Homo sapiens: one gene and its partners. The protein of the gene in region 3 purifies or fractionates together with the protein of the main gene of each other region. This does not show direct contact. Each region holds a gene or a part of one and is shown on either strand. Other genes may lie near its edges.

Region 1 (8,048 bases), on a different chromosome or scaffold from region 3:
TGAGATACAGATTCTTCGGCAGTGCTACAGCCATTAACATTTCCAAATGTAATCCGTGCATTTAAGACATGAAACAAGGGAATTTCTAACAAACAAAATAAAAACTTTTATAAGTAAACTTTACTGAGAATAACAATAATAGTTATCATTTACTAAGTGCTTACTATGCCAAGTACTTTGATAAGTATAATTTTATTTAAGCCTCATAACAACCCTTCCCAATACACAGACGGGAAAACTGAGATTGAGAGTTGTGTATTTTCGGTCAGGCGCGGTGGCTTACACCTGTAATCCCAGCACTTTGGGAGGCCAAGGCGAGCTGATCACCTGAGGTCAGGAGTTCGAGACCAGCCTAACCAACATGATAAAACCCCATCTCTACTAAAAATACAAAAATTAGCTGGGCGTGGTGATGCATGCCTATAATCCCAGCTACTTAGGAGGCTGAGGCAGGAAAATCGCTTGAACCCAGGAGGCAGAGGTTGCAGTGAGCCAAGATCATGCCACTTCATTCCAGCCTGGGCAACAGAGCGAGACTCCATCTCAAAAAAAAAAAAGAGAAAATGAGTTATGTATTTTCTCCTAGATCACAGTGAGTAAGTGATCAAGCCAGGGTTCAAGTATCATGAACATACAACTATCCAAAATTAATACTCTTCATGAGTAGTATGTATGATATATACATATATAGCATTATGCATACTAGCTTGGGACGTAGATCATATTTACATATCAAAGGATCTTGGTGTCAACTGTCTTCCTCAAATAATTATCTAATTTGAAGTCTCACTGAATTAAGGTTTGACATTAAAACAATGACTGTGTCATGTTTTTATGCCTTTTTATATCTGTCAGCACCATTTGCAAATAGAAATGATGGTTGGAGATCTCTTGACTTTGATACACAAAATGAACCACTAATCATAACACTTCTTTAAATCAAACCACAGGAGAACTCTGACCTCCTCTGTTATGTCTATAAGCTACTTTGACCTAAAGCACTCCAATTCCCTGAAGCATCCTGCCACCCACATGCTGCCACCCACAAACATGGGCAGAACCTCCAAGTGTTGCTGAAGTTTATTTAGCAGTACCTATTTTGACAGGAAATCCAGGTGGGAATTCCAATTTGATGAAATCTCTCAGTCTTGCAAAATGAGCACTCGTTCGAGCCATTAGGTCAATGATGGGAATGACCTGCTCCACCAGAGAGAGGGGAAACTCTTCACACATCCACAACATTGCTTTAAACCTGCAGAATTCAACCAAGAAAAGACTGAGGTCATCTCCACCAGATGGGAAAAGGAGATTATTGCTATGCAGTAGGCTAGACAACAGCAGCTTTACTCCACACTCTGCCCAGTCATCTCTTAATTCAGACCTATTAAAGGTCAAATGTCTAGGGCCACAAGGAATTCACATCACCCTAAAATCTGGCAATAAAGGCAAGCGACCTGCATGACAACCTGCCACGATCAAAGCCTTAATTGACAGCAAGCATGAAGAAATGATAGCGGGTGGAACAGTTTCATTTGAATTTGATCAGCTGAAGCTGGTTAGCAATAAAAAAAAAAAGGAATTCTTACATCCAATCTAGATTCTATTTGGAAAGGAGCTAATAACATGGACAATCTACTGTTAGCTTTCATGGCAAAGTAATTTTAAAATTATTTTTTATAAAAAGGGGCAGAGGAGGCTGGGCGCAGTGGCTCATGCCTGTAATCCCAGCAGTTTGGGAGGCCCAGGCGGGCGGATCACAAGGTCAGGAGTTCGAGACCAGCCTGACCAATATGGTGAAACCCTATCTCTACTAAAAATACAAAAATTAGCTGGGCGTGGTGGCACGCGCCTGTAGTCCCAGCTACTCAGGAGGCTGAGGCAGGAGAACCGCTTGAACCTGGGAGGCAGAGGTTGCAGTGAGCCGAGTTCGTGCCACTGCACTCCAGCCTAGGCGACAGAGCGAGACTCCGTCTGAAAAAAAAATAAGGGTGGTGGGGAGGGCAGTGGAATGATCCAACATAACACCATAAAACAGCACAATTTCTGAAACATACATAGGTTGAAAATGGCAGCTGAACCTCTCTTACTTCTGTGTTCTAATCGTCAGCTCTTTCGGCCTTCCAATGTCCCTGTCTTTCAGATCAAACTCTTCATTGAAGTACTCATCAGGCGTGATGGCTGTGGGGTTGTTTGCAGTAGCACATTCCGTGGTGAGGTCCTGCTGAGCCAGAACTCAGGAGAGTCAGAAATGCCAAATGATGTTCACAAGTGAAGGCCTGTGGCACTCAGTGTCTGAGGTGGACGTGTTAACCAGCTAAAGACCGGGAAGTTCTATTCACTAACTTTTTTGCATGGAACAAGAAAATCTATGAGGATATCACCAAACTACACAGGAAGTGTAATGGATTTCTTCATTTTAAAATATTTCTCTACTCTCCTTTACATTTTTATCTCCTGATTATAACAAAGAAAAAAAGAAAGAAATATCTGAAAGTGCATGAGACTTGGAAGACTTGGAGTTGAAGTTCTAGCTGTTTCCCTGTCTAGCTTTGATAGTGGAAAGGTAATTTCATTTTTCTGACCCGCAGGGACATCCACTGTACCAAGTTCATATAGTTACTGTGAGCATCAAGTAAGAAAATATTTGTTAAGGTGCTCTGTTGCAATATAAAGTCCTGAATCCTTTTTAAGTTCCATTTCTATAAAGAGGCCCCTCGTTTATAATGGATAAGAGGGAAAGCACCTGATTTCTATAATCACTACCCCTCCTCTAAAATCCTTATTTATTTTCAAAGAGTCACTCATCTAATTCTCTTCCAAAAGAGTATCTCAAATTCCAGCTTGGGGGTATCTTTGGCCTTTACATAGAGTGGGCTGTTCAGGATCCAGTAAATGCCATCCCAGACACAGACAAGTTGTTTCCTTTCATCTAACTGCAATGAAAGCTCATTGCTTCAACTTACCCCTTGTGCACCAAATTGGTGTTCCACAGTTCCCAGCAAAGATTCCAGCGGGTTCCTGTCTGCTACAGAGGGGTAGGGAGTTTAAAGTCTAATATTATATCTCACTTGTGGCTATAAAAAAAAGATCTTCATTAAAGTTTCTGGTCCAAGCTACCTCATTAGGAAATGCAATTACAGACTGGCTGATCAAATCATTCACAATAACCATAAACTAATTTATCCTTTATAGGGTGCTTTTCATGAGGATCTCTAAACTAGATAAACAGTTGTAAGAATTAAAGCAGAATAATGGGAAGAGTCTGGATTTTGGAGTGAGCCAGACCTGGATTCCAACCCCACCTTGGCCACTCGCTACCCATGTGTTCTGGGCCTCAGTTCCCTCATCTGTCAAAGTGGAGTAATGGCAATGGTGGTGGTGGTGCTGGTGAACAATTACTGCATGCTTACCACATACTGCAGGCGCCATTCTAAAGGCTTCCACGTCGTAACTCATCTAATCCTCTCAATAACTCTAAGGAAGGTTGGGTATCACCTGCATTTCACTGCTGAGGAACTAAGGCACAGAGCAGAAGTAATTTCACAAGGCCATAGAACTGGTGGGGCTGGGATGGGGCTGGGATGTGGCAACCACATGCAATGTTTTTGCTTGGACCCCAAGTTCTGTCTAAATCTTTCATCACAATAGTTTGGACTAAATCACTCATTCCAATGATAAATATTCTCAAATGTCCTTATCTCCTTTTTTGGCTGAATTCAACAATTGTTCTTGATAACACATAAACAAGCCCTCACGAATAGCTTTAATTACAGCTGAGGCCAACTATGGGGAAACACCTCCAAGAATGAGTCAGACTAAGGAAATTTTCTTTCCTTTTTCTTTTTTTTGAGACAGAGTCTAGCTCTGTCACCCAGGCTGGAGTGCAGTGGGACAATCTTGGCTCACAGCAACCTCCACCTCTGGGGTTCAAGCGATTCTCCTGCCTCAGCCTCCCCAGTAGCTGAGACTACAGGAGTGCGCCACCACGCCTGGTTAATTTTTGTATTTTTAGTAAAGATAGGGTTTCACCATATTGGCCAGGCTGGTCTCAAACTCCTGGCCTCAAGTGATCTGCCCACCTTGGCCTCCCAAAGTGTTGGGATTACAGGTGTGAGCCACCGTGCTCAGCCAGGAAATTTTTTTTTTTTTTTTGAGATGGAGTTTCACTCTTGTTGTCCAGGCTGGAGTGCAATGGCACGATCTCAGCTCACCAAAACCTCCGCCTGCCAGGTTCAAGTGATTCTCCTGCCTCAGCCTCCTGAGTAGCTGGGATTACAGCCATGGGCCACCACACCCAGCTAATTTTGTATTTTTTTTTAGCACAGATGGGGTTTCTCCATGTTGGTCAGGCTGGTCTTGAATTCCCGACCTCAGGTGACTCGCCCACATTGGCCTCCCAAAGTGTTGGGATTACAAGCATGAGCCACCGTGCCTGGCCAGAAATTTTTATAAAAAAGAAGTTAGGGGCCAGGCACGGTGGCTCACGCCTGTAATCTCAGCACTTTCGGAGGCCGAGGTGGGTGAGGATCACCTGATGTCAGGAGTTCGAGACCAGCCTGGCCAACATGGTGAAACCCCGTCTCTACTGAAAATACAAAAAATTAGCCGGGCGTGGTGGTGGGTGCTTGTAATCCCAGCTACTCAGGAGGCTGAGGCAGGAGAATCACTTGAACCCAGGAGGCAGAGGTTGCAGTGAGCCAAGGTCGTGCCACTGCACTCCAGCCTGGGTGACAGGGCGAGACTTTGCCTCAAAAAAAAAAAAAAAGAGAGAGAGAGAGAAGAAGTTAGGGTTAGGCTTAACACAACCCAATCACATTAACCCTAAACTTAACAGAGCCAACAAAGAGTTCCCTCTAGGCTTAAAAAATAACAACAAAACAGGAGGTGGGAGGGTGGTGGTGATTACCTTTATATCTCTTTTTTTCCTCCTCGGTCAGATGTTCTGTGCGTATTTTGGTGATCACATTCACATTGTTTACTGTGTAAACCTGAGAGGTGTATGCGAAAGAAAACAGTGACACAGGGAATCAAAACTCCAAAAGTAAGCACAGCAAAAGCAAGAATGCTGAAGCAAAAAACAGAAAACAATCCAGCAAAATAAAAATGAGAAATGGTTAACTATCATTAGGATCCTTCAGAGAAAGTATATAAACTATCAACTGAAAAATGCATCAGCAGTTACCTCCCATGTTTGACAGTTTTAATACTAAGGAGTTAGCAGTGACAGGCTGCATCTTCCTGCTTGCCCTGCTGTGGCTAAATAGTCTCAAACAAATGCCCTGCAATCTAGGTTTCCACCTGGGTTTCTATTAAACTAAGGTACCCAAACCAGGATCCTGTACTTCTGTTGGTAATTTTTTTTTTTTTTTTTTTTGAGACAGAGTCTCCCTCTGTTGCCCAGGCTGGAGTGCAGTGGCGTGATCTCTGCTCACTGCAGCCTCCGCCTCCTGGGTTCAAGCGATTCTCGTGCCTCAGCCTCCAGAGTAGCTGGGATTACAGGCATGTGCTACTATGACTGGTTAATTTTCGTATTTTTAGTAGAGACGGGGTTTCACCATGTTGGCCAGGCTGGTCTCAAAATCCTGGCCTCAAGTGATCTGCCTACTTGGGCCTCCCAAAGTGCTGGGATTACAGGCGTGAGCCACTGCACCCAGCCTCCGCTGGTAGTCTTGTAATACTAGTATGACTCAGACAGCCATCTGCTGGGCAGAAGAGAAAGGTATGAACACAAGGTTCTCTATAGACTTATGAGCTGTAGAGAAAACCAGCAAGTCACTATTTAAAAGGCATTCTGTGCACTGACAAAAATTATTGTAACTGCCAGAGCAAATGCTCTGTTATCAAGGATAACTGGGGAATATGGTGGTCTAGAAAATCAAACATAACAGTTAACAAAGAATTCTCTCTATATGCCACGTGAGGAGCCCCAACATTCAAAGCTGCAGAAAACACACTCAGCACTATGACAAGTGCTTCTAAATGTATCTTGCTGAGCATGACGTAAGCCTTTCTTTGCTCACTCAGAGGCCACCAGAGGACCCTGCAGCACTGGGCTCCAACACCAAAAGCCATCAATCCCTGTTGTACTGAGGGACTGAAAGGCCAGGAAACAGCTTTCCAGCTGACAAAATGCCAGATGACTGGATCAACAATCGTCTCCACTATTACAACTATGTTTTAAATGCACTGATGTCATGCAAATGGGCTGTGCGCCTGCTGATTACAATTAAGCTGATTTAACAAAAAAGAGACTCAAAAGCTACTACACAACATTTGAACACATGTGAAGTCTAATCCTTCCTCTTCCTTTTTTTTTTTTAAATAATTAAGGGAATGACTAGCTTGTCATTCCTACCAGAACAACTGGTACCTGTACTCATTTCTCTACCATATTGTTTCTCTTTAGCATAGCTACAGACCTCCTCAGGGCATGCTATCCCATTTTCTGAAAGTCAAATAAGACAAAATCAAACATCCAAGTGAGAGACACATTAGACAGTTCTCATTCCCCAGAGCATCTCCATGGCACAGATGCATGAAAAAAATGGGAACAGATTCCTCATTTGCATAGAAGCTAAATAGCTATATTAAATCTTATTTTAAGAGTTTCCTTTTACCTTTGCTTCGTAACCATTAACAACTTCTGCTTTATCTGTCCTCCAGCCCCAGAATCCGGATTTAGTTCTGATAAAAAGTGAACACCACAAATTTCTACATGTACAATATGCCATTCAGATTTATATCTGTAGCCTTTATAGTTTTTTTCCCCCCCAGCTTAAGTTAGTGAAGGACACTTGGAAATCATGGTCCTATTGTCCACAGGAGGCGGTTAGCAATGACAGATGGCTTATGCACCCTCCACCCTCCTCCCACAGTTATTAATCAATTTGCCTCACCCCAGGCATAGAAAGCCTCCAATCTTGGCTTCTTTACAAAACTGCCAGCATTGAGGACAAAGGTGGTGACATTTATTGGACAGCAGTCCCAAAGAAGTGACTGAAGATGACCAGCATCCAAGGGCTTGCCACAAGGTGGTAACCAGGTCAGAGCATTTATCTGGGTCATCTTAACTGGGGACATGCATGTCAATGGTGGGATCTCCACAAGTAGCCACATCTCACTCGAGGAATTCTTAGAACAATGAGGCACAGACCATCCTGCTCCTTACAAAAGAGCAGGTGGGCCAGGAACTCATCACTGTGGTGAGCTGCTTGGAGATGCCATTAGGTCTGCAAAATAGCTGAGTCACATGTTTGGGCAGGTTTGGTGCAGCAGGGCAAAGGATGTGAAAAACAGATTTTTTTAGCCCAGCTGTTAATTCCATCTCTGTGGAACTCCTTTTAAAGTAGCCCAGCATTCCAGTGGCAGATGCAGCATTGGTAATATGCCCAAAATCTCAGTTATTCAACTCAACATACTCCTGAAAAAAAATGTATTTAGGAACCAAAAGCAGCCAGGAGGCTCTGATTCTTTTTCAAAGCAGCTTGCCCTGGGAAACGCTCCCTCTCACAGGGGATCCCTGACCAGCCCTACCCTTTGTCTAGGACATCACATCCCAGCTCCTCTTGGCCCTGGCTACGGCAACAGCCTGACTTCTGCTCTGACCACTGAGTGGTTGGGATGTCATGCAGGAAGCTCAGGGAACAGCAGCAGGTTAGCCACGTTACAAAGAACATATGCGGTTATTAGCATTTTGTTTCCAAATAGTTTGCTTTTCTTCTAATGGGATTTGGTCAATGAAATTAGTCCAGATGGTATAATGAGTTTATGTGTCTATTTTAGCCCATCAGAACAGGAGGGATCAGAGCTCCCATTTTCCTACTAGTTGTCTACAATTAGGACAGCACAACCCGTGGATGGAAACAGAGGAATCCTAAAAGTATTATACCAAATGCTATCTCCAACTGACACTTCAGAAACAAGATAACAGTCACAGGGGCAGAAGGTAAGGAACCAGACTCAACTGATTAATAAGCTACAATCCCCTTTTATCATTAATACCAGAAAATCGAGATAGCCTTTTTCCTTCAATCCTCAGTTCCTTGTTT
Region 2 (8,048 bases), on a different chromosome or scaffold from region 3:
TTGGGGATGGAGGGGCATCCAGGGGCCAAGACTGACCCACTTGGCAGCAGGTGGCTGAGGGTACATGATCGCCCTCTCTGCACTGCTGGCGCCCAGCACTGATTTGCGCCCCCTCTGTCCACCCCTACCGGCCGGCAGAGGCAGGAGCCCTGGTGATGGAAGTGGACCATGACCGGCAGGTGGTGCATGTGGAGACACTGGGGCTCACTCTGCAGGAGCCCGAAACACTGCTGGCCGCCATGCGGCCCAGCGAGGAGCATGTGGCCAGTCGCCTCACCTCTCCTATCGTCTCCACCCACCTGGACACTCGTAATGTGGCCTTTGAGAGGTCGGTCGGGTCCTGGCACACCGTGGGTGGGATGGGGACGGATAGCAAGAGCCACCATTAATGAGGGCAGGGCGATCCTTGAAGATCCTGGTTCAGGCCTCTGGGCTCACTCACAAGGGGCTGCTCAGGGGCAGGTGGGTTGCTGCAGCCCGTGTCTCACTCAGACTGCCGGGGTGGTTGGGCTCCTGTGGCCACCTTTGTGGGGAGGGGTCAGGTCAAGATGTCCCCAGTTTCTTGACTTCTGACCTCATATGTTTTCCCATTAAGACAAAGATTTAGGCTGTGGTTCACGGCAGCTCTTTGCACCAATGTTGGCTTGTCATTGGTGCGGCTGTGTTGGGGGCAGAATCCTTTGTGGGTAGCCTAGGAACCTGACCCTTCCAGCAAGAGTTTCTCTGACAACACATGCCCCCTCTTGCCTTAACAGTCAGTGGAAACACTTAAAAAAAAAAACAAAAAACCTTTATTGAGATATAATCTCATATACCATATAAGATCACCCATTTAAAGCATACAGTTCAATGACTTTTAGTATATTTATTCAGAGATTTGTACATCACCACAGTCAATTTTAGAACATTTTTATCACCTCAGGAAGAAACCCCCCACCCTTTAGCTAACTCTTCGCCAAACTTCTTATCCCCTCTCCCAGTCCTAAGCAACCACTAATCTACTTTCTGTGTCTGTAGAATTCCCTGCTCTGAGTTCTCATATGAATGGAATTTTATAATATGTTGCCTTTTGTGTCTGGCTTCTTTCACTTAGTATAATATATTCAAGGTTCATCCAAGTTGTAGCACGTAACTATTTCTTTCCTTTTTGTGGCCATTGTATGAATATACCATATCTTGTTTATTCATTAACCCATCGATAGACATTTGGGTTATTTGCATTATTTGGCTTATGAATAATGCCACTCTAAGTATTCATGTGCAAGTTTTTGTGTAGACGTATGTTTTAATTTCTCTTTCATATGTTTTCATTTCTCTTGGGTATATACCTAAGAGTGGAATTGCTAGGTTACTGATAACTCATTGTTTAATTGACTGTTTACCAAACGAGCTGTACTGGTTTACATTCCCACCAGCAGCATGTGAGGGTTCCAGTTTCTCCACATCCTCATCAACACGTCATTATTCACTCATTTGTTTTTGGAATCTAGCCAGCCTAGTGGGTGAGAAGTGATAGCTCACTGTGATTTTGATTTGCCTTTCTTTGATGACTAATGATGTTGAGCATCTTTTCATGTGCTTATTGGTCAATTGTATATCTTCTTTGCAGAAATGTCTATTCAGATCCTTTACTCATTTTTTATTTAACTTAATTAACTTATTTATTTTGAGATGGGGTCTGGCCTTTCACCCAGGATGGAGTGCAGTGACATGATCATGGCTCATTGCACCCTCCACCTCCCAGGCTCAAGTGATCTAAGTAGCTGGGACTACAGGTGCATGCTGCCATGCCCAGCTAATTTTTAAATTATTTGTAATTATTTTATTATATCATTTAATTGTTTTGTTTAGTTATTTGTAGAGATAGAGTCTACAGACTGGTCTTAAACTCTTAGGCTGAAGCGACCTGCCTACCTGGGCCTCCCACAGTGCTGGGATTACAGGCATGAGCCACCACACCTATCCCTTCACCCATTTAAAAAATTGGGTCATCTTTTGATTATTGAGTCATAGGAGTTTTATAATTTTAGCTGTTACACTTAGGTCTTTGAGCCATTTTAAGTTAATTTTTGTGTATAGTGGAAGGTTCTTTTGCATGTGACTATCCAGTTGTCCTAGCCCCCTTTGTTGAAAAGACTATGTTTTTCCCACTGAATGGTCTTGTCACCCTTGTCGAAAATCAGTTGACCATAGATAAATTGGTTACTTTCTGACTCCCACATTAGTTCCATTGGTCTACATGTCTGTCTTTATGCCAATATTATACTGTCTTAATCACTGTTGCTTTGCAATAAGTTTTGAAATTGGAAAGTGTGAGTCTTCCTACTTTGTTTTTCTTTTTCAGGGTTATTTCAGTATTTTGGGACCCTCGCATTTTATATGAATTCTATTTTCTTTTTTCTCACAACCCAGTGTAGGCAGAATATATGAATTCTAGATTCAGCTTGTCAATTTCTACAGTCAGGTGGGATTCTGATAGGAATTGCACTGAATCTATAAAGCAGTTTGGGGAATAGTACCATGTTAACAATGTTAAGTCTTCTAATCCGTGAACATGGGATGTTTTTCCATTTATTTGGATCTTCTTTAATTTATTTCAACATTATTTTATAGTTTTCAGAGTGTAAGCTTTGCACTTTTGTTACATTTATTCCTAAGTGTTTTATTCTGTTTTTTGTTTTGTTTTGTTTTTTTGTTTTTTTTTTTGAGATGGAGTCTCACTCTATTGCCCAGGCTGGAGTGCAGTGGCACAATCTAGGCTCACTGCAACCTCCACCTCCTGGGTTCAAGCAGTTCTCCTGCCTCAGCCTCCCAAGTAGCTGGGATTACAGGTGCCCACCACCACTCCTTGCTAATTTTTGCATTTTTAGAGAGACAGGATTTCACCATGTCGGACCAGGCTGGTCTCCAACTCCTGACCTTGCTGGGATTACAGGTGTGAGCCACCGTGCCTGGCCACTAAGGGTTTTATTCTTTTTGATACAATTATGAATCAAATGTTTTTCTTAATTTTATTTTTTGATTGTGTATTGCAAATGTATAAAATTACAATTGATTTCTGTATGTTGACCATGTATCCTGCAACATTGCTAAACTCATTCATTCAAGTAGATTTTTAGTGGATTCCTTTCCTCAGTATTTTTTTTAACATATAAGATTATGTTATCTGTAAATAGATTTAGTTGTATTTCTTCCTTTCCAATTTAGGTGCCTTTTGTTTCTTTTTCTTGCTTAATTGCTCTGACTAGAACTTCCAGTAGAATATTGATTAAAGGTTGTTAGAGGCTGGATGCGGTGGCTCACGCCTGTAATCCCAGCACTTTGGGAGGCCGAGGTGGGTGGATCACGAGGTCAGGAGATCGAGACCATCCTGGCTAACATGGTGAAACCCCATCTGTACTAAAAATACAAACAATTAGCCAGGCTTGGTGGCGGGCGCCTGTAATCCCAGCTACTCAGGAGGCTGAGGCAGGAGAATGGTGTGAACCCGGGAGGCAGAGCTTGCAGTGAGCCAAAATCACGCCACTTCACTCCAGCCTGGGCGACAGACCAAGACTCCATCTCAAAAAAAAAGGGGGGTGGTTAGAGCAGGCTGGGCATAGTGGTTCACGCCTGTAATCCCAGAACTTTGGGAGGCTGAGGCAGCCAGATCACTTGAGGTCAGGAGTTTGAGACTAAGCTGGCCAACATGGTGAAACATCATCTCTACTAAAAATACAAAAACAAAAAAAAAATTAGCCAGGCATGGTGGTGGGCACCTGTAGTCCCAGCTGCTTGGGAGACTGAGGCACAAGAATTGCTTGAACACAGGAGGCAGAGGTTGCAGTGAGTCCAGATTGTGCCACTGCACTCCAGCCTGGGTGACAGAGCAAGACTCCATCTAAAACAGTAAATAAATAAATAAAAAAGAAAAGAAAAGTGGTTAGAGCAGACATCCTTGTATTCTTGTCTTGTTCTTCATCTTAGGGGAAAAACATTCAGTCTTACCATTAAGTATGATATTAGTTGTGAGTTTTTGGTAGATACCCTTCATCAGGTTAAGGTAATTCCTTTCCATTCCTCATTGTTAGAGTGTTTTTATCATGAAAGGATGTTGGATTTTGTGAAATGCTTTTTCTGTGTTTATTGATATGATCATGTGATTTTTTAAAAAATTCTATTGATACATCAATTGACCTATGGATATTGAACCAACCTTGCATTCCTGTGATAAGTTCCACTTGGTTGTGGTGTATAATTCTTTTCATATGTTGCTAGATTTGGTTGGTTCGTATTTTGTTGAGGATTTTGTGTCCATATTCATAAGTGATATTGGTCTGTAGTTTTCTTGTGATATATGTCTGGTTTTGGTATCTGGGTGATGCCTCATAACTGAAGTGGAAAATGTCACCTCTTTGTCTATTTTTTTTAATAGTTTGCAAATAATTGGTATTAATTTGTCTTCAAAAGATTGGTAGGATTCAGTGGTGAAGCCATTTGGGCCTGAGTGTGTGTGTGTGTGTGTGTGTGTGTGTATGTGTGTATAGTTTTTTGTTGTTATATTTACCAATCAGTCTCTTGACTTGTTATCCATCTATTCAGATTATCTATTTATTCTCAAATTAGTTTTGGTAGTTTGTGTCTCACTAGGAATTTGTCCATTTCATCTAAATTATAAAATTTGTTGGTGTACAGCTATCATTGTATCCTTTTATAATGCTTTTTATTTCTGTTGCTCCCCTCTTTCATTTCTGATTCTGGTGAGTAATTTGAAGTTTTTGTTTTGTTTTGTTTTGTTTTGTTTTGTTTTGTTTTTGAGACAGAGTCTTACTCTGTCACCCAGGCTGAAGTGCAGTGGCATGATAAGAGCTCACTGCAGCCTTGAACTCCTGGGCTTAGGTGATTCTTCAACCTCCCAAGTAGCTGGGACTGCAGGCATGCACCACCAAGCCCAGCTAATTTTCTTTTTTTGTAGAGATGTGGTCTCACTATGTCATCCAGGCTGCTTTTGAACTCCTGGCCTCAAACAATCCTCCTGCCTTGGCCTCCCAAAGCACTGACATTACAGGTGTGAACCACCGCCCCCAGCCAAGTCTTCTCTCTCTTTTTTTGCCCACCGTGGTCAACCTAGCTAAAGGTTTGTCAATTTTGTTGATGTTTTCGAAGAGCCAGTTTTTGGTTTCATTAATTTTCTCTATTATTTTTCTATTCTCTATTTCATTAACCTTTACTGTAATATTTATTATTTCTTTCTGTTCTTTCTGGTTTAGTTTGCTCTTTTTCCATTGTCTTAACATGGAAGGTTAGGTTAAGGTTATTGATTTGAGATCTTCTTTCTTAATATAGGCATTCACACATATTACATTTATACTTCTAGGCATGTCTTTTCTTTTTTTGACATGGGGTCTCACTCCATCGCCCAGGCTGGAGTGCAGTGGTGTGATAGCTCACTGCAACCTCCGCCTCCCAGGCTCAAGTGATCCTCCCACCTCAGCCTCCTGAGTAGCTGGGAACACAGGCGCCAGCTAATTTTTTCTGTTTTTAGTAGAGATGGGGTTTCACCATGTTGCACAGGCTGGTCTCGAACTCCTGTGCTCAAGCAATCTGCCTGTCTCAGCCTCCCAAAGTGCTGGGATTACAGGCGTGAGCCACCGGGCCTGGCCTGGCCTTTACCTGTGTCTCATAAGTTTTTTGGTTTTTTTTTTTTTTTCTGAGAGGGAGTCTTGCTCTGTCGCCCAGGCTGGAGTGCAGTGGCACGATCTCGGCTTACTGCAAGCTCCGCCTCCCGGGTTCACGCCATTCTCCTGGCTCAGCCTCCCGAGTAGCTGGGACTATAGGCGCCTGCCACCACGCCCGGCTAATTTTTTGTATTTTTAGTGGAGATGGGGTTTCACTGTGTTAGCCAGGATGGTCTCCATCTCCTGACCTTGTGATCTGCCTGCCTCGGCCTCCCAAAGTGCTGGGATTACAGGCGTGAGCCACCGTGCCCGGCCATAAGTTTTGATATGTTGTGTCTTTATTCCTGTTTATCTCAGAGTATTTTCTGATTTCTCTTTTGATTTATTATTTGAGACGTTGGCTATTTAGGAGTGTGTTGTTTACTTTCTACATATTTGTGAATTTCCAAAGTTTTTTTTTTCTGCTATTGACTTCTAATTTCATTCCATTGTGGTTGGAAAACATACATTGTATGACTTCTATCCTTTCAATTTTATTGAGGTTTTCTTTTTTTTTTTTTTTTTTTTTTTTTGAGACGGAGTCTCGCTCTGTCGCCCAGGCTGGAGTGCAGTGGTACTGTCTGCTCACTGCGAGCTCTGCCTCCGATGTTCACGCCATTCTCCTGCCTCAGCCTCCCAAGTAGGTGGGACTACAGGCGTCCACCACCGTGCCCGGCTAATTTTTTGTATTTTTTAGTAGAGACGGGGTTTCATCATGTTTGCCAGGATGGTCTCGATCTCCTGACCTCATGATCCACCCCCCTTGGCTTCCCAAACTGCTGGGATTACAGGCATGAGCCACCGCGCCCGGACTTATTGAGGTTTTCTTAATGGCCTAGTGTATGGCCTTGAAGAGTGTTCCGTGTGCGCGTGAGAAGCGTGTGTGTGGTTGTTATTGGGTAGAGTGTTCTAGCCTGCTTATGAAGTCCAGCTGTAGTGTTGTTCTTATCTTCTGGTTCTTTGTTGATCTTCTAGTTGTTCTATCCCTTATTGAAAGTGGGGTACTGGAGTCTCCAACTGACATACTTTTCTTTTAGCTTTTTATTTTGGAAAATTTCAAACATATATGAAAGAAGAGATAATGTACTTACTCATCACCCAGCTTCAACATTTATCAACATCTTGCCAATCTTACTGAATCTATCCTTCCTTACCTTTTTTAAAAATGTTTCCTAGAGTGTGTCAAAGCTCATCCCAGATGTCCTAATGTTTCTAGTAAATGCTTCTGCACAATTCTAAAAGACAAGGATGTTTTTAAACCCAGCCCCGACACTATCATACCTCACAAGATTCATGCTAATTCCTCAGTGTCTTCTAGTCCCAAGTCCATGCTCAAGTGTCCCCCCCTGTCCAGGCACCCTCTTCAGGGGTCCTCCATGTTTCATAGCGAGAAGGGGCCCTGAGAGTTGGGCACCCCGGGCAGGCTGGCTGGAGGGGGCTTTGGAAAGGAAGGCTTTGGCCAGCGTGTGAGGGTGCAGGTCTCACCAGCTCCTGTTTGGTCTGTTTCAGGAACAAATGTGGTATCTGGGGCTGGCGGTCTGAGAAGATGGAAACTGTTAGCGGCTACGAGGCCAAGGCAGGAGAGGCTAGGGGTGGGGGGCTGGGGGTAGGAGATGAGGTCCAGGAACTCAGCTCCTCTCCACATCCATCCCAGAGTAGCCCCTGGGCTCTGGAAACCCTGAGCATTTGTGGGAACTCAGCGGGCCTGAGTGCCCAGCCCCTGCGGAGTACACAGGGCTCACCCACATCATGGGCCCCTACCCAGGGTACCGAGATCAAAAGAGGAGTGTGTTCCTCTTGACCCTGGGGCTGCATCTCCTCGTTGGTGACTTCCTGGGGTTCAGACCCTGCCACCTCCTCCATTTTGGGGAGCAAGATCTCATCTGTCTCTGGGACAGGAGGACCTGGGTTCTGCACTGGTGAGGCTGAGTGTGGGGAGCAGGCTCTGAGCCCCCAGCTCCCCGTGTCCCCTGCTCCCCAGGTGTACAGTGCCACCAACGTGGAGCTGGTGACACGCACACGCACGGAGCACCTCTCTGATCAGGACAAGTCGAGGAGCAAAGGTAAACCCAGGTGCGCCTGCCTGCTGCCCGGTCACACCGTGTGGTGGGGTCACCCTGGCCTGGGATTAGGGGCCAGAGTTTCCCAGGATGAGCTGGGAGGCCTCCCCATTCCCGTCTGACCCCTCTTCCCCCAGACAGTAGGCTCCAGGGGTGGAGGTGGGCAGGGGCGATGCGAGCATTGTGACCCCTTACCAGCTCCCACCCCTTCTCCGTAGCGGGGAAGACTCCATTCCAGTCCTTCCTGGGGATGGCGCAGCAGCATTCCTCCCACACCGGGGTGAGCCGGGGC
Region 3 (8,048 bases):
TCTCCAGTTACTTCTCTGTGTCTCCTCTGATCCATCCTGTAATCCTCTCCATGCTGGGAGTAGACTTATTCTGGTATAGTTTATTGTTTCAGATGTTTTTCAGAATGGAACAAGCGGTTGTTTTGTTCCAAAGGGCTTCCCAAAAGGATGTGTCAAATTAAATAGAAGGAATGCTGAAGTATTGAATAACAAAATATAGGTCATTGAATAGTTATATTATTGTTAATAGTGAGATTTGCTGTGGATGAGATGAAATGTAAAGAATGTATATTTTCACAGAAAGTGGTTTTAATGAAGTAATTATAAAAGAATCTGTACGTGAGGAAAATTGATAGTAACAGAGGGATGATAAGATGAGAAATTTTCACAGTTCGGGATTAACGTGTGTGAGGTTTTTAAGTCATCTTAAATATTAGACGACCCTAAAATAATGTAACCCCACACTTAATCATTATCAAAGGAGTGCTTAGAAAAAAAAATCAGTTTATAAATGCAAGTAAAATCATGTTACAGGGAAAATTGTTTGAAGTTTTTTTTTCTTCTCCTAATTATTCCCCTCTTAGCTTCCCTAATTATTCCCCTCTTAGTATTCAAAAAGGACTTATAACTGAATTTGTGTTCCCTTCAACCTCCCAGTAACAACAATACCTCCTATAATTTATTAAGTGCCTACTTTGTATAGAGGCCATAAATGATACTATTACGACAACTCTGAGTTAGGTGGTGTAACCTCATTTTTGAGAGCAGGAAACAGTCTTCTAGAGTTTAAATAATGTGTTGAAGATATATCTTGGAAGTAGCAGAGTGCATATTTGAGTCAGTTTTTTTTTCTGACTTCAAAGTCTTAAGCCACCAATGATCTGTTTTTTCTTATCTTCCATCTTCATCCTTTTTTTGGTCTTTTCTCAAGCGGTTGGCAATTCGTGGTATTAATTGATAGTATGTGTCTGAGTGTTGGTTCTTTATGATGTAATTTCTTCAGAAGCGGTAGTTTTGAGGTATCTGTCTTTAATTGTGGGATCCTGTAGGTGCAGACAGTATGGTTCTGGTAATTTAAGGCACCTCAGAGCATCACCTTTTGCTGATCTGCAGGACAGAACTATGCTTGGATTCTTAATGTGTAGAAATCAAATGTGCTTTAATAATGTGAAATGATTTTCAAGGGCATCTGAACTGCTCAGGAAATATGGAATGGGAGATAAATGTAGAAATATATAACTTCTAGCGACATGGTGGAGGCTGCTGTTAGACATTTTTTCTTTTTTTTAAGCTCTCTCTGAAAGCTGAGATTTAGCAACTATAAATGTTTGGGCTTCCCTTCTATTATGAAACCTAAGGAAAGTATGTGTTTATTTGTTGTTAGACCATAGTGATTGGTTATACTCTCTCCTGCCACTTCGTGCTTATCATCTTAGTTATAAGAAATAACTCTTAACAATGAATTGAAGTGTTTATGTATTGGGGAGATAAGACACACTTTTTTGGTCGCTTTGTTTACCAATGATATATTACATAGTTGTAATTTATTGAAAATTTATGAGTAAGTTATGTCCACATGGCTAAATCATGTCCGCATTTTTCATAACTTTTCAATGGAATGAGAGATGGTCTCATGATACTCTTTTTCTTAAATACAAAGTTTAATGTTTTTTTTCTCTAGGTTAGTAATGTGAGGTTGAAGTTGTATTCAAATTTATTACATTTATTTAGATCACTTTGTGTTACCTGGAAGTACTTTCTTCAGTTGATAGCTACATTTGGAAAAAAAGGGAAGAGAGTTACCCTGTTATTCTGCCATTATATTCTTCATCAAAATGGAGGAAATTCATATGAAGTGCCAAGGACTATGTGATGCCTGCCACATAGTAGGCACTGTGTAAATCTTCTGTCCTTCATTTCAGAAGTTGCCGATAAGAATTTTAGAGGGTGGATTGGTGGGTAGACAAGCAAAGACTCTCGGGAACACCCTATTACAGGAAAATCTCTCATACCTGACCTCTGCTTAACCCACTCGTGAGATTAAATGATAGTCTTCATTCTCTCTGTAGAATTTGCTGACTGATGCTCATGCTACATTGAATGACAGTAGACTATTCTTTAGTTTTATCTTGAACTTTTATTCCCCCCAGTTACTGTAGACTTACCAAGAAACATTTGTGTTTGTACCCAACACACTGTTATGGCACTTGATGTTGTAATCACATAGTTTAATGAATTATTATTCAGTGAACTCTGAAGATAAAAAGGCGTTTGTATGAGAACCAATTGGCTACTTTGAAATCAAGTGAGTAGCCAAAATCAATTATGGTTGAAATAGATGAGGGTTAAATAATTTTAAATGATTAGGGAAAAAAAAACAAAAAACACCTAACGATCTAAAAAAATCTGCAATAATATTATTTTTCACGTTTGTAAAATGTCTTTCTGTGTTTAAGAAACAGAAACTGGAAATCACAGGTGTTGTTTTATGGGGGTAGTTTTTGCAAGAAAAAGGAAATAGAACTTTCTTCGATAGACCCACACTGGAAGAAAAGGCCATAGCTCTGTATTATAAGATTGTCTTGTGAATGGACATTTTTGTTTTAGTTGTAATAAAATGTATAGAGTTTGTAGATGTTGAGAAATGATTTCCTTTTTAGGCTAACTTCAGAACCATTTATTAATTGTAATATATTAAAGAAGTCTGCTTCTAAAACATCATCTTTCCTAGTTTACACTACTGCTTAGAGATTTATTTAATAACATCCTCTTTAAGAAAAAAAAAAAAAAAAAGGAAGATCCTGTTATTCCCAGAGGTTCATTCCTTAGAGTGAATTGTTTATCTAGTCAGGTGATCAATCTATGGTTCTCACATATTTCCCAGTATGGTCCCTAATCTGATTTCATAAGCTACCTTTCAACTTTTATGTACTGTCAGGGTTGAAGGGGTAAGCCTTCTTATAGTTCCAACATCTCCATCCAATTAGGAATGCTGGGGTAGAGGAGATTGTTCTTTGAAGGAGGAAATGTGACACCCTTGATATATACCAGGAGCACTTGAGCCTCCTATCTCACCTAGCTCAGTCCAAATGGAAAGGAGAACTTTCAGTTGAAGGAGCAGGAAGTCCAGGTTGGAGAAGGAGTGGTATATGTGGTATGCTATTTATTTTGGTGTAACCACATTGCTTGCTGAATTACAGTAGATGCTGAAATGGCACATTGAAGTATGAAGGTAGGGTGGGTGGCTCCAAGCTAGTACTTGAGAGCTCTGGTCTGCCCCTCTGTGATTTTCTTGGCTGTTTGTCTTCTGTGTGTTGGAGTCATCCTAAGGCCAGCAGCAAGATCACATCTAGACATGCACTGGCCAGAGGATGGAATGGATCTCTCTCTCTCTTTCTGTCTGTGTCTCTGGAAAAGCAAATACATCTTTTGCATAAGCCTACCAACATATTTTTCTCTTCGTATCTTATTGACCAGAATTAGGTCACATGAACGTCCTAACTAGTTATCATAAGGGAAGTAAGGTTATCATGGTTGGTTTCTACTAATCAGGAGATACCTTCTGCAATTGGTGTTGGGATCACATTTTTCTGAGTTAGATGGAAGAGGGAGGATATTTTAAAAAAATTGTGGGAAGGAAGAATTTGGGGGATATGGATGTTAGAGAGATGATAAATAGTGATCGCTGTGTCTACCTGTTTTGAAGCGATTCTCGTGCTTCAGCGTCCCAAGTAGCTGGGATTACAGGTGCATGCCACTGCACCCAGCTAATTTTTGTATTTTTAGTATACATGGGCTTTCTCCATGCTGGCCAGGCTGGTCTCGAACTCCTGGCCTCAAGTGATCTGCCTGCCTTGGCCTCCCAAAGTGCTGGGATTATAGGCTTGAGTCACCGTGGCTGGCAAGTTACTTTTTGAGACGGAGTTTTACTCTTGTTTCCCAGGCTGGAGTGCCATGGCATGATCTCGGTTCATTGCAACCCCTGCCTCTTGGGTTCAAGTGATTCTCCTGCCTCAGCATCCTGAGTAGCTGGGATTACAGGCAGTCGCCACCTTTCCTGGCTAATTGTTGTATGTTTAGTAGAGACGGGGTTTTGCCATGTTGGCCAGGCTGGTCTTGAACTCCTGACCTCAGGTGATCTGCCTGCCTCGGTCTCCCAAAGTGCTGGATTACAGGCATGAGCCACTGTGCCCGGCTGGGTCTGAATATTTTAGGAGCTAAAAACACTACTTTATTTTTTCATTGGCTAACTTTGAATCAATAAAATAGGTGGTGAAGTTGAAAGATTATAATTTTTTTCTATGAAACTCATGAAGCCATTTAATTTTACATTAAAATTTTTTCCTATAAACTTGTTTAAATTTTTTTTTCTGCATTGTTGCTTTCCTTCCTCACCATGAAGTTGCCCATACCTTTGATTTCATTGATTACTTTGCTTATCATATCTAGGGGAGAATAAGTGCATTGAGGAAATGGGAGTTTCTTGGTCAGAAGGATTTATTTTGAATCCTGGAATTCCAGTGAGATTGGAGGAAAGGATGGTTTTTACATATTTTGAGAGCAGCAGAGTTGGTAAGGGGTTGGGGAGGAAGGGAAGGACCATAGGATTTTAGACTTAAAATGAATCATAGGAAGATTGAAATGCTCAAGCCACACACCTGATTAGTAGAACTCTTATATCCTAATTACTAGTGGAGTGCTCTTTCTGAGTAAGAATTAGGAGGCCATAATAATCTTGTCTACTTTACAGTTTTGCTCAGGACTGTGGGCTACCAATGTAAATCAGTCAGCTAATCACCTTTAGTACAGATACCTGTGTTCTTAGGCTTTGGAAAAATTTAACCAGAAGTTTTCTTTTTTTTCCAGTAAAATAAGTAAACAGACAAAATTTTTCAGCTTGCCTCAAGCAGTCAACAACAATGACAACATCACACAGAAAGACAGGCAGACACACACACATGGAATAATCTTAAACCTAGCCTGCTTAAATGAAAATGCAAAAGCAGACTGTTTGGGACAATTCATTATTTTATTTTCAAGAAAATGATCTTAAGCATTTCTTTACCATCAATATATGTAAATGAAAGGAATATATATGTGCATATATACTATACATGTATACATAGATACATATATGTATGGGTTGTAAGTATATGGAGTAAATCCATCCATCTTCTGGAAGAATATTTATGTTAATGTCAGTTGTTTATAAATGGTGAGATTTAGGATGATTTTTATTTTTATACTTCATTTACTTCTCTATATTGTTTGGGTTTTCAGCTGTCACTGTGCATTATTTCTACCATCAGAAAAAACAGTAATTTTTTTTTTTTTTTTGAGGGGGGTAGAATCTTGGGGTGGGATGTGTTTTCTACCAGTTTAGATTTTAATATATAACTGCTTTCCTTGTATATTACCATGAATAAAGTGTGCCTCAAATGTATTGATACTTTGCAGATTTCTTTATGTTTAAAATTGGATGTATTAAAATTACTTATCTTAAAATTTTAAATTGAAATTGGCCATATAATATCTTTTGGTACAAATATACATTATAAAATTAGTGGACTTCTGAATATTTTGAAATTATTGTGTTATTTATTTTTTTAGTTTGTTTGGTTTGACTTCAGGTGGTATACTAGGCAGTGTATTAGACTGTGATTTATTAGAGTTAAAATTATATTCAGAATTTCCTTTAGTAAAAAGGGAAGTGAAAATGTTTTTTTTCTTTACACCCACTGTGTGTCATGTTTATTTTCTATTTCTGTGAAATACTTATTTTATATTCTAGCAATGAATACTTTCAAGTGGCAGGCAAATATATTAGGTAATCAGGACAGAAGAGAGAAAATTTATGGTATTCTATAAGTCTTAGGGTGTGCAAATTTATGACTACAGGACCTTTTAATAAAATTCTAATTTGGAGTACAAAAATAGTCTAGTATTGTTTTGGAGATGAAACTAGTAGGTGTCAGTTTTAGATGACCTTGAAAAAAAGTGTTTATAGATGCATATTTTTTACAAAACATTATTTTCTTTTCTACATTTATTTTAGGGAATCTGACAACAGTCTGACTCTCCCTACTCCAAAAATGTAAATCTTTAAATCTTAAAGATGTGGAATCTTGTGATGCCAGTTTTTATTTTAAAAAAAGGATCTTTACTGAGTACTTTTTCTGTCATACGAGTATCAGGATATATTGTTGCTGATGTGTCTTTATATAATTGAGATTCTGCAAATGTTTGTAGTTAATAAAGTATCAAAATATAATCAGCTCCTTAAGATAATTGTTTTGAGTATTTTCTGATATCTATTGAAAGTCGATAACTAGAATGCATATTGTGAGTTTGCTTATTATTGTATGCTTTGCTGTTTACCTTAATACCTACTAATGAAGGTGGTTTTTTTAAGACTGAAAAAGAAATCCTGAGCATTTGGGAATGAGAATATCCAATAAGCTAAAATTAATTTTACTATACACACTTGTTTAAAAATTTCCAGTTGAAAATTAGTAATTTTTCTTCTGTGACAGAGTAAATGAAAGAAGAAAAATGGACAATTTTAAAGATAGTTCATGCAGTCCTTGCTATGGGCTGGGAATGCTAACATTTAACTAAATAGATGAGAGGAGGGAAGGATTTGTGGAGAAAGTTTTTACTAGTGGTTCTTGGCCCGAGTTCATATTACAGTTTTCTTGGGAGCTTAAAAAAAAAAGACAGATGTTGGGATTCTACCCATGCTAATTTATATTCCATAAATAATCAGTAGGGCCTGGAAAGGGCTAGGGCATTGATATATTTTAGGATTTCTACAGACGATTCCAGTGTCCTGCAGGGTTGAAAATAACTAATTTCTCCTTCTTTTTACACTCTCAGCCCTTTAAAAAAATGGCTTTCTTTTATTTTCCAACTGTCTTTTTAAAATTTGAGGTGGAGGTATGAAGATGACACAGAAGAAAATGCAAAGAAAATATTAGCAAGAGAATCAAGTTAAAGTAGTGGCTTCTGCTCATAGCTTCATACAGTTCCTCAGATTCGTTCCAGGACCCCTCATGGCTATCAAAATCCAAGGATGGGCTGGGTGCTGTGGCTCACCCCAGCACTTAGGGAGGCAGAGGCAGGCGGATCACGAGGTCAGGAGATTGAGACCGTCTGGCTAACACGGTGAAATCCTGTCTCTACTAAAAATACAAAAAAATTAGCGGGGCGTGGTGGCACACGCCTGTCGTCCCAGCTACTTGGGAGACTGAGGCAGGAGAATCGCTTGAACCTGGGAGGTAAAGGTTGCAGTGAGCCGAGATGACACCATTGCACTCCAGCCTAGGCAATAGAGCGAGATTCTGTCTCAAAAAAAAAAAAGAAAAAAAAAATCTGAGGGTGTGGCCAGGTACCTGACATAAAATGGCACAGTATTTGCCTATAACCTTTGACACCTTCCCCTATTCTTTAGGTTATTCCTGGATTACTTGTAATACCTAATACAATGTAAGTGCTGTGTAAATAGTTGTTATGAAGTATTGTTTAGGGAATAATGATAAAAAAAAAAGTCTGTGCATGTTTAGTACAGATGCTTTTTTTTCCCTGAATATCTCAATCTGCAGTTGGTTGAATCCAAGGATGAGGAGCCCATAGATAATGAGGGTCAATTGTACTTAGCATCCTTAGTGAGGCCCCTATATTCATTGCTCATTAGCAGTCTTTGATTAAGTATAACGCCAAAGTTAGAGGATTTCTGAAGCTTGGAAAGTTTGTTATGGGGAAATTTATCAAATATAAATTAAGGCATCAATTCAGTTGTTTCTGGAAATCTTAGGAGACCTAAGTGATATCTCTAAAGTTATTATAAATTATAAGAGGGGAAGAAGTGTTACTAATAAAAAGTTATTCATTTTAGGTTATATTTATCATATTTACAATATCATTGAGCTGTATTTTTTATGGAACATCAGGATGGAAGGGACTTCAAAGATTATTTAGTATAACTGCACTTCTGCTTTCTTCTTTTTTATACCACTGTTGATGAGGAACGGTCTCTGTTTATTCCCGCTCAGTGAAAAAATTTTACCTTA

What was found.
Region 1: the proteins of CSNK1G3 (region 3) and ANKRD13A purify together in Homo sapiens (affinity purification with mass spectrometry; 2 studies listed by BioGRID and IntAct, with this or other methods). This does not show direct contact.
Region 2: the proteins of CSNK1G3 (region 3) and ANKRD13D purify together in Homo sapiens (affinity purification with mass spectrometry; 2 studies listed by BioGRID and IntAct, with this or other methods). This does not show direct contact.

The regions. Positions count from the first base shown.
Region 1 is NC_000012.12:110,022,682-110,030,729, reverse strand, and holds part of ANKRD13A (ankyrin repeat domain-containing protein 13A), read right to left. Parts: intron 6,685-8,048; coding exon 6,618-6,684; intron 4,989-6,617; coding exon 4,907-4,988; intron 3,026-4,906; coding exon 2,964-3,025; intron 2,222-2,963; coding exon of another isoform or gene 2,219-2,221; coding exon 2,088-2,218; intron 1,253-2,087; coding exon 1,095-1,252; intron 86-1,094; coding exon 1-85. UniProt on the Homo sapiens protein: Ubiquitin-binding protein that specifically recognizes and binds 'Lys-63'-linked ubiquitin. Does not bind 'Lys-48'-linked ubiquitin.
Region 2 is NC_000011.10:67,291,853-67,299,900, forward strand, and holds part of ANKRD13D (ankyrin repeat domain-containing protein 13D), read left to right. Parts: intron 1-138; coding exon 139-328; intron 329-7,205; coding exon 7,206-7,272; intron 7,273-7,677; coding exon 7,678-7,759; exon of another isoform or gene 7,760-7,769; intron 7,770-7,974; coding exon 7,975-8,036; intron 8,037-8,048. UniProt on the Homo sapiens protein: Ubiquitin-binding protein that specifically recognizes and binds 'Lys-63'-linked ubiquitin. Does not bind 'Lys-48'-linked ubiquitin.
Region 3 is NC_000005.10:123,515,177-123,523,224, forward strand, and holds part of CSNK1G3 (casein kinase I isoform gamma-3), read left to right. Parts: intron 1-8,048. UniProt on the Homo sapiens protein: Serine/threonine-protein kinase. Casein kinases are operationally defined by their preferential utilization of acidic proteins such as caseins as substrates. It can phosphorylate a large number of proteins. Participates in Wnt signaling.